Homo sapiens: one gene and its partners. The protein of the gene in region 1 purifies or fractionates together with the protein of each later gene. This does not show direct contact. Each region holds a gene or a part of one and is shown on either strand. Other genes may lie near its edges. The genes, in order: P2RY10, INTS2 and FASTKD1.

The links.
Region 2: the proteins of P2RY10 (region 1) and INTS2 purify together in Homo sapiens (co-immunoprecipitation; 2 studies listed by BioGRID and IntAct, with this or other methods). This does not show direct contact.
Region 3: the proteins of P2RY10 (region 1) and FASTKD1 purify together in Homo sapiens (co-immunoprecipitation; 2 studies listed by BioGRID and IntAct, with this or other methods). This does not show direct contact.

What each region holds. Positions count from the first base shown.
Region 1 is NC_000023.11:78,940,635-78,948,390, reverse strand, and holds the start of P2RY10 (putative P2Y purinoceptor 10), read right to left. Parts: upstream 3,001-7,756; 5' UTR 2,896-3,000; intron 2,674-2,895; exon of another isoform or gene 2,608-2,673; coding exon of another isoform or gene 2,595-2,607; intron 579-2,594; exon of another isoform or gene 577-578; coding exon of another isoform or gene 528-576; intron 1-527. UniProt on the Homo sapiens protein: Putative receptor for purines coupled to G-proteins.
Region 2 is NC_000017.11:61,864,677-61,869,139, forward strand, and holds the end of INTS2 (integrator complex subunit 2), read right to left. Parts: coding exon 4,358-4,463; intron 3,334-4,357; coding exon 3,157-3,333; intron 3,051-3,156; coding exon 2,881-3,050; 3' UTR 691-2,880; downstream 1-690. UniProt on the Homo sapiens protein: Component of the integrator complex, a multiprotein complex that terminates RNA polymerase II (Pol II) transcription in the promoter-proximal region of genes.
Region 3 is NC_000002.12:169,556,678-169,564,024, reverse strand, and holds part of FASTKD1 (FAST kinase domain-containing protein 1, mitochondrial), read left to right. Parts: intron 1-674; coding exon 675-800; intron 801-3,239; coding exon 3,240-3,638; intron 3,639-3,644; exon of another isoform or gene 3,645-5,101; coding exon of another isoform or gene 5,102-5,112; intron 5,113-6,727; coding exon 6,728-6,838; intron 6,839-7,347. UniProt on the Homo sapiens protein: Involved in the down-regulation of mitochondrial MT-ND3 mRNA levels which leads to decreased respiratory complex I abundance and activity.

The DNA of each region.
Region 1 (7,756 bases):
TTTCCTCTTTATTTGTACACAGAGTCATCTCCAAGGGCCTTTGGTTGGATCCTGTACATTTCTGGATTTAGAAAATCCCCTAAGAAGTGTAGTTGTAGCAGAGGACTAGAATATCTAGAGCAGTAATTTTTAAAGTTAAAGGGTAGAAAATAAGTGTTACTTGATAAAACATATTCCTTATTATAACAAATATATTTGGAAAACAAAATAAAAAATGTCATTATTGTTTCTACAATACAAACTGTGAAAGTACAGATCTACAAAATCCTCTTAACTGTTGGGCACTTAGTACTTGGAAAATGTCAATGTGATGGAGCAGATTTTTCTACAAGTCCAGGGTCTGGTCCCTAGGAAGGCAAGTTCACAGTAACCTTGTAGTGAAATGTTTACGTTTCTCAAAGGGAACCTTGGGTTTAAAAGATTGAGAAATGCCAACTGAGTGTCATTGTCACTGTGGAAATTAGATTTCAGAAAGTTTTATCTTTTGTCTTGCATTTTCTCATTTTTAAAAAAGGGAAATTACTTACAAAGCATTTGCCTGTGGTCTAAAAGTTGAAGCTGTCATGATAACATTACCTGAAAGAAATATAATGGCAATTGGGAAAGGATACTCAGTTCTCTTGGAGATCTGAACTACATTTCCAGAATGTCCTCTCTAGATAGATTTCCCTATTATGGCCCCATTATTCACCACTCCATAACATTTAACTATTCTTAGGTATCTAACAGTCTAACTCAAATCATTGGATTGCTAGGAAGGAAATTAGGAACCATCTATTCCAAGCCCTCTCCCATTATAATAGATGAGATTATTGAGATGCACAGAAATGAAATAACTCACCGAAGGCCACACCAGTCATTGGCAGAACTTGAACTATAACACAGACTTCTGACTCCTTATGTATTGATCTATCTATTTGATCACTCTACCTGTGATGTATATGAACTGATACTAGGAGAAAACTTCTCCACAAAATATACTGATCTGAAGAATAAATAAACCTTTTTGCCAAAAGCTTTTAAAATAAATCATAGACCACCGGGGAACCATTGCCCTGATTGTTAGTGCTTTTAGAAAGTCTCATTTTACTATAAACAGCTTTGTTCTCTTTGCTTGAGCCATGACAGAGAGCTATAGTATAGATAGGCAGCCTATCTTTTTTTTATTTTTTTTTTGAGCCAGAGTCTTGGTCTGTCTCCCAGGCTGGAGTGCAATGGCACAGTCTCAGCTCACTGCAACCTCCATCTCTCGGTTTCGAGCGATTCTCCAGCCTCAGCTTGCCCAGTAGCTGGGATTACAGGCGCCTGCCACTGCAACCAGCTAATTTCTGTATTTTTTAGTAGAAACGGGGTTTCGCCATGTTGACCAGGCTGGTCTCGAACTCCTGACCTCAGGTGATCCACCTGTCTCGGCCTCCCAAAATGCTGGAATTACAGCGTGAGCCACCAAGCCCAGCAGGCTGGCCTGTCTTTTAAAACCCCAACTCACTTATTTCAAACCAAAACAACCCATAAATGTGTTTATTCATTTGATGTCTTCAGATTTGAGTAGTCTGTACAACTTGAACTCTACAACTTTCCCAGTTGAGCCCCAAAATAAACTGCATTTGGCCAAAGAATCTGTGTTCAACAGGAACCATTGCAAAAACAATTGCCCCAAATGTGTGATCTGATTCTGACTGTAGTTTACACCATTTTCCACCTCAGTATATCTGCATATCACCTACTTTCATAAGTGGTTAATTTTACTGTGCTGCAATTGCTAAGAGATAGATTCTCCAATTAATATACATCATAATGACTCCACACATCCATTTGAACAACTGAAATAAAAATATTCTCACTTGCAGGATTCTTGGAACTGAGCCTACTCCCCTGGAAAGCACAGCCAAATCTGGTATCATTCTATCCAGCCTTATCCTGGTTCCAAATGATTTGGCACAGTCTCCCTTCAGGGACTCCTTAGCTGAAAGTCTCCTTTTGATTTAGTCATCTTAGCTCAGAAGGAGAGAGGTGCTAGTATTCAGAGTAATAGCAATAATAACTGAAAAAATGAGTGCCTCACTCATGGGCTTTGCTATCCAGTAAGGCTGAACTTCGGTCAAAATTAGCTTTCAAAGGATCAAGGAACCACTCTGACCAGACTCTGAAGTCATCTGGGATACTTTCTCCTTTCCTATCCTAAAAAATGGCAGGGTCACAAATAAATTTACAGTATTCTCTGGGAGATGCAAACTGCTGTAGGAAAAGGCAAACATGAGTTTAAAGACACAGGTCCTAGATCCACCTATACCACTAACAAGCTGAGTGAACCTAAGTGTCTTCACTTCACTGGCTCTCAGTTTTCCTGACTGTATTGTGAGGGATTTGGATCTCTATGGGCCCTTTCAGCCCCCAGAATCTATTACCCTGCTTTCTACTATTTGTCTCAGTATCTCTGAAAGCTAAATTTTCCAAAGCAAGGATTTTATACCCAAAAATCTTCCTTCACGATGCAGCTAGATAAATTATACACCATAAAAAATTAAATTGACTTTTATTGGCCGAATATGTCAAGTTGTCCCAATGAGTCTCACTGAATATACTCTTCTTACCACTTTGTGCCATCTTCTCTGGTCCCACTCTCTAAAGAGCCCTCATCAAAGAGTGAGCTGCATCACAGACTCCATGCTCCTGGCATAATGAAGAGGACTGATGGCATTAACGTTAACTTTGGACTCTGGTCAAACTCAACAGTAATTATCTTTGCTCCTGTTGTAAGATGTCTGAGATGAGAAACCAGTGACAATTTTAATACAGACACTGGCCCCACATCCACCTCTGTTCTGATTTTTATGATCACACCAATCTTCCCACATGAAACCACCAATCCCCAGGTGCTAGGCATTAACTTACCCTGGAGCTTAGCTGGGATAAGCACTCTTGTTTCTTTGCAGGGAGTAAAGGGTAGAAAGCTTTACTCTGGCGGCATGGATCCTGCTGATAACTGACACATTTGTTGTTGAAAGAGGAAGTTGAGTTTATCTGGTGTCTCACCACAGAAACCTTATTTGCACAAATGAAAGGTAAGTCCCTTGAGCAAATGACGTTACTCAAATTTTATTTCTTTTTATTTCATTGGTGCAGAGAAATTCAAATAGCAGGGAGTCAGAGGCTATGCATACTCACACAATGGCTATATAACAGCCTTCCTCACCCTATCTCCTTCCTTGACAACCGACATATCTAGATTTTCACTGATTCCAGTAGGTTCCATGGTAAGATGAAATTTTCAGGAAAATCTAAAGAGTGTTTACCTAGTAACAAGAAAGCTACAGCTTGTGCAAGCCTGAGGGGCAAAGGCTGAGGAAACCTAAAAAATACAAGTCAAAATTAGAAACAGTAGAAGTACCTTTGCTTAAGTTGTTCCCTCCATCTGGAGTGCCCCTCTCCCAACCCCTTCATCTTGAGGCTCACAATTTAACACATAGTTTCATTATTTTTGTATATTTATTATCCCTTTACTAGACTGCACACTGCTTGAGGGTAAAGATCATGTCTGATTCATATCTGTATTCCCAATTTGTCCAGCACAAGGCATTTTCATGAATTGTTATTGAATGAATACATATGGGAATTAATAAATAAACAAATGCTCAAAGAATGCATGAATAAGTAAATGAACATTATTGATTACGGGGTCTCCCTCCAGTGTACTAAAATTCTGGTTTTTATGTACAGTGTATATGGGGCCTTCAAAACTATGTGAATACAGGAAGATCATACACTTGAGGACTACAGTGTCAACTAAGTCTGAGAGTAGTTTTGAGAAACGAGGTTTAAAATGCAGCACAAACCCCTGTTGGCGTGTAAGGGAAAGAGAAGCTGACAGTATTGGAAACTAAGAGCTTGGGATGATTGATGGAAATGTCATAACTTGTGAAGACTGGCATCATCCTGGCTGATGTATGTCAAATGAAACAAGTTTAGCCTTTCAATCCCCTTCTTAATTTTGATTTCAAATGTTTATTCAGCTCCTATCTTTTGTTAATTTAGGTTTCTGAATTGGCATCCCTACTGAAAAGAGAATACACTGACAGACCAACACACATCTCAGTCCATTTGGCAGTTGTGTTCCTCCCTATGGTTAGTGTGAGCCAGTTTTCCTAGGGTAAGATTCTTCTCTGAACAAACAAAAAAATTCCAGACCTGTTGAGCTTTGAAGGCAAACCCTGGGATCCAGAAATACAAGAAATCCTTTTCTTACAACTGGCTATGATCACCACATCCCAACTTTATTTCACAGACAAAACCTTCACATTGCGAGAAGGAAACCTACCAGTTTACTTCATTTCTGTCTTGCACGCAAGCAGCTTCTTCTGTCACTGACCCTAAAAAGGGAAGAAAAATAAAACCAGAAGTCAGTGTCCCAATTCAAATGAAAAATTTTAACTCAGGTAAATTTTGAGTGTTAATTATTGATATGGTTTGGCTCTGTATCCCTTCCCAAATCTCATCTTGAATTGTACTCCCATAATTCCCACGTGTTGTGGGAGGGACTTGAAGGCAGTTCATTAGAATCATGGGGGCAGTTTCCTCCAGTTTCCTCCATACTATTCTCCTGGTAGTTAATAAGTCTCATGAAATCTGATGGTTTTATAAGGGGTTTCTGCTTTTGCATCTTTCTCATTTTCTCTTGCCACTGCCATGTAACAAGTGCCTTTTTCCTCCCACCATGATTCTGAGGCCTCCCCAGCCATATGGGACTGTTAAGTCCAATTAAACCTCTTTTTCTTCCCAGTCTCAGGTATGTCTTTATCAGCAGCATGAAAACAAACTAATACAATTATAATGAACAAATCTGTGGAGAAACAAAGCAAGCTGATAACCTAACAGTCATCTCCAATTAACTTTTAAAAGAAAGTCTTTTTGTTACTAGGTACGACTTATGGTTTACAAATCATTATAAACTAAAACAAAGTAATAAGTACCCTAATTATAAGATTCTTAAAAGTAGTGCAGTTGTACTATTTTACCAATAGTTCTAAATTCTTTCCTTATTCTTATGTATGTCATCAAAGTTTACTTTAAATGATGAATTATGTCTTCCATAGGCTGGGGAAAGTTTATGATTTGGTGCTTCAAAGGCTTTAAATTCTCTCTAACAGTATCAATAAATGAGGAGTGATAGCTATTGTTGAGAATGTTATTCATTACCATATATTGTGTTTCCTAGGTAACCCTAGAGCTCTATATGATTTAGTATGAGGAGAAGCTAGGTTTTTCCTAAGCAAATGGTTAAATTTTATTTTTATGAATACTGACTTTGTAATTGGTCATGTGTCTCTTTTTACAAAGTCTGATTAAAAATCATGAACCAACATAGAATCTACTGGTAGCAAGTGTGGAGATTTTTTATGGTGTGCTTTGTGGGATTCATTTTTATCATATCTCAATTTTTATGTCTTTGCCAATTTTGTCATTATTATTTTTTATCCACTTTAACTTATATTATCTTCTTATAACATTCTTCCTTTGAAACAACTTTCAGTCCTTTCTGGAACATAGTGGAATCCAAAAATGAAAAATAAAGGACAGAGTGAACTGTGAACCTCAATTCTTTTTAAATTAGAACTAGTGAAGCTAAATTGCTTTAGGTAAAATACCTTCAAGAGTTTTCCATGTCTGATTATATATCTGCAGAGTATTCCTATGCATTTTTGAAAACTAATCATTTAACAAATACTTAATGAACTACAACAATGAGAAATCTCTCCAAAGCTGTGGAGGAAGGCTGAGTTTGGGAAACAAAAAATATGTTTCCTATCCTCCAAGAGTCTACAGTTTATGTGACAAGTTAATTATTCATAAAATAGTTAGAAAATGAAGCACAGTACATACTTGACTGTTAAATTGTATGGAAATTAAGAAGATAAATTAACCATGGGCTGAACCTGTTGGAGAAGGTTTTCTGGTCCTTTCTTGATGGGCAAGTTTTGCTTTAAGCAGTGTTTCCCAGAGAATAAAATGTCCTAGTGGAGACATACCAAGATTTTTTTATTTTAGGTGGTACAAAGAAAAGCTTAAAAATTTAAAGCTATATATTTATTTTAAACCTTTAAAATATAATAAAATTATCCATACAAATTTATGATTTCTTAGATAATATTTCTTAAGAGGAGGCTAAAGTAGGTAACTAAATTTTAAATACTGTGATTATTCACAAAAAACTACACAAAAACCCCACAAAACTATAGAGGGTATGCAAATAACAAAATCTGTGGAGAAACATTTGAGTGTCTGCAGTTTAGAAAATTTAAAGAGAGTAGAGAAGGCAAGAGATTCCAAGAGAGAGAAAGAATATTGCTGAGGACATGAATGGAGAATAAACATGTAGAATAAACATGTACTGTTTGTGTGAGAATGAGGGCAAGATTTTGTCTGACCCATAAGGCATGCTGGAAACAGAGGGAAAGAAGCTTGGAGGATGGAGTTCTACAAAAATGCCTTAGAGTATAGAAGCCATGGAATACAGGAAGTAATTGAAAGGATATAAACAGAGTCGGAGGAGGGAAAATAAAATTATTAGTTACTGAGTACTTTCCATGTCCTATCACCATTCTAGGCAATTCGCCCACATCATCTAATTTAATTCATCAAACAATCCTATGGAGTAGGGACTAATATTATCTCCCATTTTCTGCATTAATGAATTCAAGCACAGAGAAATTAATTAACTTCCCAAAGATTGTAAACAAGGAAGTGGGAGAGGCAAGATTCAAATTCATATGTGCCTTGCTCAACAGCCTGCTTCCTTTCTACAATTCTTTGAATGATCACGGAGATAATAGTATACAGAATGGATTGCAGGAGGGGGCAAAACAGGAGGTGAAGATCTCTTTTAGAGAATAGACCATTACATTTGAGGTAATTAGAGCCTAGATTGGGACAATGACTGTAAGAATGAAGATAGAGAGTAGTTTCCAAAAAATATTTTTCTCAAAGAGCTCTTAAAACTGTAATCAGTAAAATGAAAGAGGAAATGAATTTTCACGAATAGGAATAAATAAATCTTTCAAGGGGTTCATTTTTTGCATATTTTCCATTAAGACTTTTTTTGAGTCATATGATGAAGTATATCTTCTTTCAGTGAGAAAAACATACTTTGTAGCTGGAAGAGAGGTTCTTTTTTCTGAACCCAGAGGCTCGTTTTGGAGACAAGTTTACCACTTGGCCAGTTCTTGAGGGTCCCTGTGCAGAATCTATAGTCTTGACAAGGAAAATGATTCACATAATATAAATTTTTAATGAATTCTGTTTCAGAAAATTTTCATAAGAAAAGATTTTATTCAGTCAAATAACTGGCCATTTGGGTCAATGTGCTGTGTATTAACCAGAAAAATGAGATTTCAATAAATTCTAGGTGATCTCTTTGATGCCCATTTAGTCAAAGCCATAAACAATGAGCAAGACGCCAAGGAATGAGGCAAAGAATGGGATCTCTTGTCTCAGTTTCACACTTCAGGCATTGTGCTATGAGACTTATTAACTTTCATATGTGTCACCAGGATTGATCATTGGGAAAACAGTGGAATAGGTGAAGACTGTATTTGCACCCTATCTTCCCTGACTAGCCTTTTTGTTCAGCATTCTTCTCAAGGATATGGTATGCTTCCAGACCCTCTGGGTTCCCGTTCTTACAAAATAAAGTGATCAGAGTAGGCTCTTCATACTAAAATAGAAAAAAGTATTTAGGAAGAGGACACTACAAACACAG
Region 2 (4,463 bases), on another chromosome or scaffold:
GCAAACCCCAAACTGGGTGTTAGGGATTCAGTAATGTGAAAATACATATGAATGAGCAAAGATGAAGTAATTTACTGTTAAGACAATGAAAGGAAGGATAATGTTTAAAAATAAATCCTTAAAAATACCTTCAAATTGTCATTTCTCTTTTATAATTTTTAAAACATCAACTCTTGGCCGGGCGCAGTGGCTCACGCCTGTAATCCCAGCACTTTGGGAGGCCGAGGCAGGCGGATCACCAGGTCAGGAGACCAAGACCATCCTGGCTAACACGGTGAAACCCCGTCTCTACTAAAAATACAAAAAATTAGCCGGGCGTGGTGGCGGGCGCCTGTAGTCCCAGCTACTCGGGAGACTGAGGCAGGAGAATGGCGTGAACCCAGGAGGCGGAGCTTGCAGTGAGCCGAGATGGCGCCACTGCACTCCAGCCTGGGAGACAGAGCGAGACTCCGTCTCAAAAAAAAAAAAAATCAACTCTTTTGAGTAACTGCTCTAGTATAACTACTCTCATTTTCCTCTCCTAAATTACTAAGAGTTTCAACTGGCTCTCACCTTGCATTGCCATTTAATGTATGTGGCATAACAGAAAGGGATACACGTAGGCCCTGGAGCCATACAGACCTCGAATACAGTCCCTTGAACCGTTCCCTTCAGGTTAACTCTAGTGGAATGAAACACAAAAACTACAGGTTCGTTTGATAAAGAATATGAATGTTTATAAACCAATATTCAAAATAGCTGCACACATCTGTTTTCACTTGAATAAAAAAACACATTGTGACAAATTTTATAACCTTAACTTAAAATACATGAATATTAACATTTACTAATATATTTACACATTTTATTTACATCATCAACAAATCTGATGAAAAAGAGCATATGTGATTATTTTAACACAGCAGGTTATGACCAGTCTTTGAATATTGATCCAGGAATGTGCACTGCATTTAATTAGAAAACATACTTTTAACTTTTTCTGAACTCCTAGGGCATATCTATTCACACAAAATATCGCAAGGCCTCAGTTTAAAAAAAAAAGGAGCAGTTGTATTTAATCTTAAGGGACTACAAAACTGCCTTGTTTAAAAATATGAAAATTCTTATGCTATTTTTAAGATACTTTTATTACTTTTATTTTTCACATCAAAATTACTTAATTGAACATTAAGCATCTAATAAAAAGTTATAAATATTCTATCACATGTGATACTATGCACTTCATGATTTGAAACAGCTACAAACTCATTCTCATAGAATATGAGGTAGGGCCAGTAGTAACCCCATTTTACAAAGGAAGAAAATGAGATGTGACTATTTACTAGTGAAAAGGCTAAAGTTAAATTTCATTTCTCAAAAACTACACCTTCTTATTAGCCTAATTTCTTTTACAAGTGAAGCGGTCTGGCCAGGTGCGGTGGCTCACACCTGTAATCCCAGCACTTTGGGAGGCCAAGGTGGGCAGATCACCTGAGGCCAGGAGTTCAAAACCAGTCTGGGCAACATGGCAAACCCCCGTCTTTACTAAAAATACAAAAATACAGGTGGCGCGTGCCTGCAGTCCCAGCTACTCAGGAGGTTGAGGCACGAGAATCCCTTGAACCCAGGTGGCAGAAGTTGCAGTGAGCCAAGATCATCCCACTGCACTCCAGCCTGGGCAACAGGGGAAGACTCCACCTCAGGAAAAAAAAAAAAAAAACACAAGTGAAGAGGTCTGTTTCAAGTGGGGGTGGGGAAGTGTGTGATTGAGGTATATCTCAGAGAGAAAAAAGGGAATTACTTTCTACATTGATAATTTTTTTTTAATGATTAGGGTTTACCTGAATATGTCTGCCTAATCAATGGAAGTTACTGACAGAGGACTGCAAAATCCTTCGGCAAGACAATATTTTCTACACTTTAACTTTTCCTCAGGTTCAAACACTGCATTTTCTTACTCAAAGATCTTCTCAAAGTAAGATATGAATTATAATCCTGATGACAAACCAAGAGCTCTTTAATCCAGTGGGTTTTATTGCTCTACCTTCATTTAATTTGATACATATTTCCCCCCTCTGAGCATTAGGTAAGTTAATAAAGCATTATAAAAATAAATTTAAAACATAAAACTAAATGAGATCTCTCAGGTTCTTCTTTGAACAAAGATGTTTCTGTAAACACTTTTACACCAGTATCTTAAAATTCCAAATTATTCAAGTATCTCTTTAAACATATGGCTTCATATATTAATAAAAATTGAAGCAAATATGTGAAATCTTTAAATCCTCATCTGTATTTCCACAGAAATCATTTACAAAAGCTACTTGCCTTTTTAAAAGTCTTCTCAATACTCTTTCTTGAGAACTAGAATTCCAACTTGCATTACTATTACTTGCACTGCAAATCTTTGAGATTTCTACTTGTGTTTTTAACTCCTATTATTTCCTTAATTCTCCTTTCCCTTTACCCTTTTTTCCTCTCCCATCTTTGCATCTTTGTCACATTCTGTTACAAGCTCACAGTTAAAATAAACACTAGGGCTACCCACAGACTCATTTTTATAAGAAATTAAAGGCATGGCAGTCTTCACTTCAAAAGCTAAATACAAGGCCAAATTCCCTTTCCAATAATGAGTTTCTTACATGTGTTCCCAGTGGAAAAAAAAAAAGCTCAGCTGCTACAATAGAAACATATCAGCAAAGTAGATCCAAAGATGTGCCAATCAGAAACAAGCAAGCATAATTCTCATAAAGTTCTAAACTATACTCATGTTGAATTGAATTGTTTTAGTGATTCCAAGACAATACTTTACTGTTCCCATTCAGTTTAGAGTTGTTACTAATATGCAGATTCATGTTGGGTATATGCAGCAAACAACTTTTTGTTGTTTTAAATTTTGTTTTAAATTCCACTAACACTCATATTTATTATTTCAATTACTGTTCTTTCAATACAGTGACAGAGCTGTACATCAGGATCCATGCTTCCAGTGTCCCTGGATCCATTTTTATAAGATGAATCTTTACAGATTTGAGACCATCCACTTGGTTTCTCCTTTATTTGTTGAAGACCTACAACATAAGGGAAAAAAAACATTAAGGCCAAGAAATTTGGAAAGGAATTTGGCCTTTTTGTTTGAGATATTAAGATAACCCTTGAAAATAAGTTACCACTTACGTGTAATAATTGGATCAATGTCTCTTGTCTGAGTGGCAACATCAGAGGCACAAACTTGCCCTATTTGGATCAGCAAAGACATAATATCCTCATACAATGGAGGAAATGCTCGACAAAAAGAGACCAAACTTGGCAGAGTTGGCATAAAAAAAGCATACCGCTTAGCCTGTGTTAAAACTGTTGGAAAAAAATGAAACAATATTTTAGTTTACAAATATAAATTCAACACAGCTTACACAACATACTAAGGGGAACTATGCTCTGTGCTGGAGATATGAAGTTCTCTAAACACAGCCAACCCGTCTTCAGAAAGCTCACAATCTAGTAGTCTCAGTCTTTATCCAAGATACAAATTATTATGCACAAGTTTTGCAATAAGTACATTACATGCATTATTTCATTGAATTCCTACAATCTTATGAATGACCAAAGTACTATTATGACACTCATTTTATATATGAGAAAACTCTTAAAAAAAGGTTAGAGAGGTTAAGAAACTTGTTAAAGATCACAAGCCAGTTAGTGGTGGGGCTGAGATTGAATTCAGGCAGTGTAAACTCTTAATCACTACAAATAATTATAACAGGATATAAATACGATGAAAAGAAAAACAACAGGGTATTATGGAAATATTATAATGAGAAAGAATACTAAGTTAACTATGCCATTACATTAAGGGTTGCATTATAGTTCATATATTTTAAAGTAGTTTATTTTCAGACCATTTTATTCTACAAACCAGAAGGTGGTTAAAATATCAGAATATGTTTTAGAACTTATGAAGACATCTAATACATTTATCTTTCATTTATACATATGATGATATTTTTCTGGAACTCTGAGCATTTGTAATAAATGAACATTTGTTATCTACTGATACAATTACATTCTGAAAGTGTATTTGTTTTCCATTTATAAAATACAGAAAGCTTATATTTACAAATCTATATATACTCATTCACAAAATGAAAAATACAATTTGCCTACCTATTCATTCCCACTACACTATAAATCACATTTGTAAACAGAAGTTTCCAAAAGAAGAATTCAAAAGACGGCATAAGTTAAACTAGTATTTAACACATATTGTATCATACTGTCTCAGAGTGACAGAAAAAACATATTGCATCACTAAATGCAGAAAATATAGGAACTATAATAATTTATGTCAGATGTTTGTTGATGTTGATTGGCTACATACCTGTTAACAAAGTTCCCATGACATTGACAGCTAAACGAGCCACACTAAGTGACTTTGGTAATGCATATTGTATACACAAGTGAGAAAGCAACTGGATAGCAAATAT
Region 3 (7,347 bases), on another chromosome or scaffold:
CTAGTCCTCTCACCCAAAAAGGATCTTGACCTCTAACACCATAAATTGTTTCTATAGAAATGGAATCCTATAGTATGTACCCTTATAGTTTAGTTTGCTCAGTATGTTTTAAGGATTTATCCATTATGTTGTATGATTCCATAATTTTATTCTATTGTATGAGTATGTGCAGTTTATCCATTGTACTCTTGATGGACATTCGGGTTTTTTGCAGGGTTTTGCTATTACATATGTGTTGCTGTGAATTTTCTTATGCTTGTTTTTTAGTGAATTCAAAGTCATAAAATCTATAACAGTTCCTTTTTCCTCTCTTTTGTCTTGCCATTTTCTTGTTGAAGAAATTGGATTATTTCTCCTATTAAAAAAATTCATAGCACTGTTGTAGTAGCAGCCATTATATTTGTTAATATGCAACCTTGAGTCAAAATTGTTCTGTCATCTAAAAAAATTAAGTAAATCATTCAAATAATTTTTAGTGATTTTCCCCCTTTCAAAACCTTTCTACAGTATCTGACTTTTTAACTGTTGCCATGTTACTTTTATAATAATAACATTTTAGAAAAAAAATTTTATGTAATTTACTATTTTGATTGCTTTTAATTTTATAACTATATATTATGTGTTTTAAGTGAAAGTAAATACTAATGTTCTCCTTTGTATATTTCCTTTAATAGGTTTGATATTAAACTGCTCTCAGAATTTTCCTCTTGCCTAGCAGATCAGCATTTGTATTTTAGTCCATTAATGGGAAAAATAGCTGATATTGTTCATAGGAACTTGGAAACCACACAGGACTTAAGGTAAATTTATTTAGGGAATCTTGTGTTGTGGTGGAAAGATCCTGGGCTTTGGATGTGGATGCAGTCAGATTTGCTACTCTTAGTTTATGTGACTTAAGGTTACTTAAGCTCTTGGAAGTTCGTTATCCTCATCTGCAAAAGAGGGATAGTAATAGCTACTTTGCAATATTGCTGTGGGGATTAGACATAAGGTACATAAAGTGTAATACAATATTGTTGAGGTCTGTGGAGGATCTGAGTTTTTACCTATTTGCAAGCTAAGTTTGCCTGCCACATTTTCCTACGTGTGCCGTAGGAAGGCCTGAGACTCCGAGGTCAGAGAGAGGACTTTGTTTTTTATAGCAATAGCAGTAGCAGAGTACCAGAATTTTCTTGTGTTGATTCCCTGAGCTCTCGTTCCCATAATGGGTTGTGATCCAGGAGAGGAGCTCTGAGCTTAGGAAACCTGAATCTTTTATAATAAAGCATGCCTACTCTGCTCCAACAGGAGACATTATCTCTATTCTCCTAGGCTGTTTGCTATGCAAACATCCTTGAAAAGATAGTTCTGAACAAAGGCAGTCAGAAACCCACTGAAAATGGCCTCTGAATAAGTATCTAGAACATAGAAGTTTCTCAGTAATGGATAGTAGGTATTATTATTATATCATGAAGTAAACCCAAGAAGTATTTAAATTAAGTATGAATTCATTGGCCAGGCATGGTGGATCACACCTGTAATCCCAGCACTTTGGGAGGCCGAAGTGGGTGGATCACTTGATGTCAGGAGTTCGAGACCAGCCTGGCCAACATGGCAAAAATCCCATCTCTACAAAAAATACAAAATTAGCTGGGCATGGTGGCGGGCGCCTGTAATCCCAGCTACTCGGGAGGCTGAGGCACAGGAATTACTTGAACCTGGGAGGTGGAGGTTGCAGTGACCTGAGATTGTGCCACTGCACTCCAGCCTGGGCAACAGAGCAAGACTCTGTCTCAAAACAACAATAACAAAAAACGAAAAAAAAACAGTAACAAAACTTGAAACAACAACAACAAAATCCAAAAAAACCAAAAAATAAATTAATAAATAATTAATTTACAATAAATTAATAAATAATTAATTTACAATAAATTAATAAATAATTATTTTACAATAAATTAATAAATAATTATTTTACAATAAATTAATAAATAATTAATTTACAATAAATTAATAAATAATTAATTTACAATAAATTAATGAATAATTAATTTACAATAAATTAATGAATAATTAATTTACAATAAATTAATAATTAATTTATAATAAATTAACAAATAATTGATTTACAATAAATAAATAATTTATAATAAATAATTTACAATAAATTAATAAATAATTATTTTACAATAAATTAATAAATAATTTACAATAAATTAATAAATAATTTACAATAAATTAATAAATAATTTACAATAAATTAATAAATAATTTACAATAAATTAATAAATAATTTATAATGAATAATTAATTTATAATAGATTAATAATTAATTTATAATAGATTAATAATTTATAATGGATTAATTTATAATTAATTTATAAACAAATTCACAAATTTTACATACAATTATGTCTTTTTTATTCTTTCCATCTGGGAATACTTTCTTTTCAGTTTCATAAAGGAGAGTTAATAGTTACATTTGCTGAATGTCAAGGAACTATTAATTTGAAACTAACATTTAAGGAGTTTCTCTGGTTTTCATACCAGTGGTTTGAGGGTTTGTTTTGTTTTTAACATAAGATTACTTACTGTCAATGCTAACCTTCATAATCCAGTACTATGATTGTCTTTGGCGTTTCAGATACAGCTTTTTCTCTCATATTTACAAAGTGATTAGCACTTTGGTAAAATTAAATTATAGTAGTTTCCTGCTCTTCTTGCCCCACTCCACCCTACTTCCCTGCCTTTTTTTTTTTCTTTTGAGATGGAGTCTCCCTCTGTTTCCCTGACTGGAGTGCAATGATGCAACCTCTGCCTCCTGGGTTCAAGCGATTTTCCTGCCTCAGCCTCCTGAGTAGCTGGGATTACAGGTGCTCGCCACCACATCCAGCTAATTTTTATATTTTTAGTGGAGATGGGGTTTCACCATGTTGCCAGGCTGGTCTCAAACTCCTGACCACAAGTGATCTGCCCACCTCGGCCTCCCAAAGTTCTGGGATTACAGGCATGAGCCACCATGCCCAGCCCCTTGCCTTTTTTTTAAAAAAAATACACTTATGTGGCTGGGTGCAGTGGCTCATGCCTGTAATCCCAGCACTTTGGGAGGCTGAGGTGGGAGGATTGCTTAAGCCCAGGAGTTTGAGACCAGCCCTGGCAACATAGCAAGACTCTGTTTCTACAAAAAAAAAAAAAAAAAAAAAAAAGAATTGATCATTCTTAATTGATGTAAAAATCTTTGCATCTTTTTTCTTTTTCAGTTCCTTGTCTGTCTTGATGGTCAACATATCTTCTTTAATATCACGACATTTTCAACAACAACTGGTGAACAAAACAGAACTTCTTTTTGACACCATAGATTCTTCTGAGGTCAACGTTGCAAAAAGCATAGCAAAGTTTCTTCGAAATGTTAGATATCGTTATCAACCACTATTAGAAAGATGTAATAACGTATTTTTAAGTAATGTGGACCACCTTGATTTGGATTCCATCAGTAAAATACTTAGTGTATACAAATTTCTACAATTTAATAGTTTTGAATTTATTATAATGGCTAAAAAGAAGCTAACTGAAATGATTCCTCTGTGTAATCATCCTGCTAGCTTTGTAAAATTGTTTGTAGCATTGGGACCCATTGCAGGACCTGAAGAAAAGAAACAGTAAGTTCAGTTTAAAATGCATTACTTTTTTTGTTGTGAATACGTGGAGCCTTCAAGCTTAGGTCTCCTTGCAGCTCTGGAAGGTACAAATATCACCCTATTAGGTTGTGGAAGGGAAAATAATCTCTTATGCTCTGCTCCTTGATTCTTTTTCTGATTATTCTAATTTACATCTCAAACTCTTAGTCTGTTGCTGTGTTCTGAAAGGTAAACCTCTGATACTGGGCCAACATGAAAAAAAATGAGGGGAAACGCCATGTGTTTTTATTCTCCCTTTTGTGCTACATGACTGGATTTACACATATAAGACTCCCCCACCCAGTGTAAGTCTGTGGAATATTTAGAATTATAGTAGTCATAGCAGAGGGCCATTTTATGCTTTGCTGTCTTCATCACAATAATCATCAAAGCATTTATTATGCACTGGGCATATGTTCCCATGTCAGGTTTGAGCAAATTTTGTGTGGCGCCTCTCATTTAGGAATTTCCAGTTTTGCTAGATACTGATGTAGGTAGTAATATTTGAAATATAATGATGAGCAAATATTAAATTAACATACAAATACGGTTAATAGATAAGAGTTTCTCTTCCTAGGCCATGTGACTGGATTTATACTAGACATAAACTTCCCCCACCCAGCATAATTGTATGAAATATTTAGAATTACAAGCTGGGCACGGCGTTGCACGCCTTTAATCCCATCACTTTGGGAGGCCGAGGCAGGTGGATCCCTGGATCCCAGGAATTTGAGACCAGCCTAGGCAAGATGATGAAACCTTGTCTGTACAAAAAAATACAAAATTAGCCAGATGTGGTGGTGCCCACCTAGATTCCCAGCTACTCATGAGGATCACCTGAGCCCAAGGAGGTTGAGCCTGCAGTGAACTGACATTGCGCCATTGAATTCCAGCCTGGGCACAGAATGAAACCTTGTCTCAAAAGAAAAAATAAAAGAAAAAAATAAGAATTTTATATAATAGTCCTAACACATAAGTATGATTAGTAGATTCACTTAAGCAGGGGTTCCAAGACTTGCACAATAGGGGAATCTGTATCATTACTCTGTTAGGGAAAACTTTACGGAGAAAGTTTTATTTTTTAAGAGTACTTTGTGGCTGGGTGCGGTGGATCATGCCTGTAATCCCAGCACTTTGGGAGGCCAAGGCAGGTGGATCACCTGAGGTCGGGAGTTCAAGACCACCCAGACCAACATGGAGGAACCCCGTCTCTACTAAAAATACAAGATAAGTCGGGCATGATGGCAGCGCCTGTAGTCCCAGCTACTCGGGAGGCTGAGGCAGGAGAATCGCTTGAACCCGGGAGGTGCAGGTTGCAGTAAGCCAAGATCGCGCCATTACACTCCAGCCTGGGCAACAAGAGCGAAACTCTGACTCAAAAAAAAAAAAAAAGTACTTTGAATTATATGAAAAAATTTAAGAGCACATCTTAAGACTATATCAAGATGGAAACAAGGTGATTATTAAAAAAAACTATTGGGGCCCAGCACGGTGGTTCACACCTGTAATCTCAGCACTTTGGGAGGCCAATGCTGGCAGATCACTTGAAGTCGGGAGTTTGAGACCAGCCTGGCCAACATGGTGAAACCCCGACTCTACTAAAAATACAAAAAAAAAGGGCCGGGTGTGGTGGCTCATGCCTGTTATCCCAGCACCTTGGGAGGCTGAGGCGGTTGGATCACTTGAGGTCAGGAGTTCGAGACCAGCCTGGCCAACATGGTGAAACCCCGTTTCTAGTAAAAATATAAAAAATTAGCCGGGCGTGGTGGTGGGCACCTGTAATCTCAGCTACTTGGGAGGCTGAGGCAGGAGAATCGCTTGAACCTGGGAGACTGAGGTTGCAGTGAGCCAGGATTGCGCCATTGCACTCCAGCCTGGGCAACAGGAGCGAAACTCTGTCTCAAAAAACAAACAAAAAAATACAAAAAATAATTAGCCGGGAGTGATGGCAGGTGCAATGGTGGGCATCTCTAATCCCAGCTACTCTGGAGGCTGAGGCAGGAGAATCGCTTGAACCTGGGAGGCGGAGGTTGCAGTGAGCTATCATGCTCCTGCACTCCAGCCTGGGCAACAGAGTGAGACTCCATCTCAAAACAGACGAAGAAACACACACACGAACAAACTTTATTGGAACCGTTTTTTGTCACCAAGTACTGTTAAAATCTCAGTGCTAAAGCAATAAAACAGTTGGGTTTAACTGAGTCTGTCTTCAAGGAATTTATATTGCAATTGAGAGGATAGATATAATTGAAATATGTAAATACTGTAACAACATAGTTTATGAAGAAACAATAAAATTAGTGATATGGATAGTGCTGTGAGCAGACAGAAGTGAGAGAAAAATATAGACTGAAGTGGTTGGGAAAAGTTTGTGGAGAAACTGGGTTTGAAACCTTTGAAAAGGTTGGTGGAAAGGATGGCATGGAGTTATCCATGTGAATAGACAATTAGTTTATCCTATCAGATGTCACGTTTCGAGCTTGCTTTCTAAATGATTCTAAAAAATACACGTATCATGGTACTTAACATTACTGCACTACTTTGGATAGTTCAAATGACAACTAATCATAGTCAAAATGGACCAGCTTTGTTAATTTTCAGTTTATACTGTTATATCAAGTGCTTAGTATATGAGATTTCTGATAATATGCAGGTTTATTGACTCCTAGATGTTCCTATTCAGTTTTAAAACATTTGGGAAATTGTCAGAATATCAACTGTTCATTTCTTAGCTCTCTAGTATTGAATAATTTCACTGAATCATAGTATTTTATAACCATTATAACCTTGTATTATTTGAAAATCTTAAAATATCTTTTACCTGTATTTTTCAAACAGTTTAAGATTGGATTATAATGAGGCCTGAATTTCATTGAAGAAGACAATATATTTTTCTTTATTCAGTAATATTTTATATTCGAGTAATGTGGGGAGAACACTAGAATTATATATTGGATTCAGTTTTTGTTTATATTTTTTTTCCTATTTGTTACCCAAGAACTGTTATTTAAAAAAAATTGCAAGCTAATTTTCAGTCTTTCAACCAAAAACTTTTTTTTTTTTGCTTCTAGACTTAAATCAACTATGTTATTGATGTCAGAGGACCTAACTGGCGAGCAAGCCCTGGCAGTGTTGGGAGCAATGGGAGATATGGAAAGCAGAAACTCATGTCTGATTAAAAGGTATCTTTTCTGAAATTTACGACGTTAAGTTTGTTGTCATTCACAAGCACCTATTTTTTTCTAAGGAAAAATGGTTTTCTTCTTTAATCTACCAGTTGTTTTGAAGAAATAAGGAATTAATGCTTAAGCCACTGTTTATGTTCTACTTTGTTTTTCTTTTCTTTTTTTTTTTGTTTTTTTGAGACAGAGTCTCACTCTGTTGCCCAGGCTGGAGTGCAGTGGCACTATCTCTGCTTACTGCAACCTCTGCTTCCCTGGTTCAAGCAATTCTCTTGCCTCAGCCTCCTGAGTAGCTGGGACTACAGGCGCCCACCACCATGCCCCAGCTAATTTTGTTTGTTTGTTTGTTTGTTTGTTTTTGAGACAGAGTCTTGCTCTGTTGCCCAGGCTTGAGTGCAGTGGTGCCATCTCGGCTCACTGCAACCTCTGCCCCAGACGGGTTCAAGCGATTCTCCTGTCTCAGCCTCCTGAGTAGCCCGGATTACAGGCGTGTGCCACCACGCCTGGCT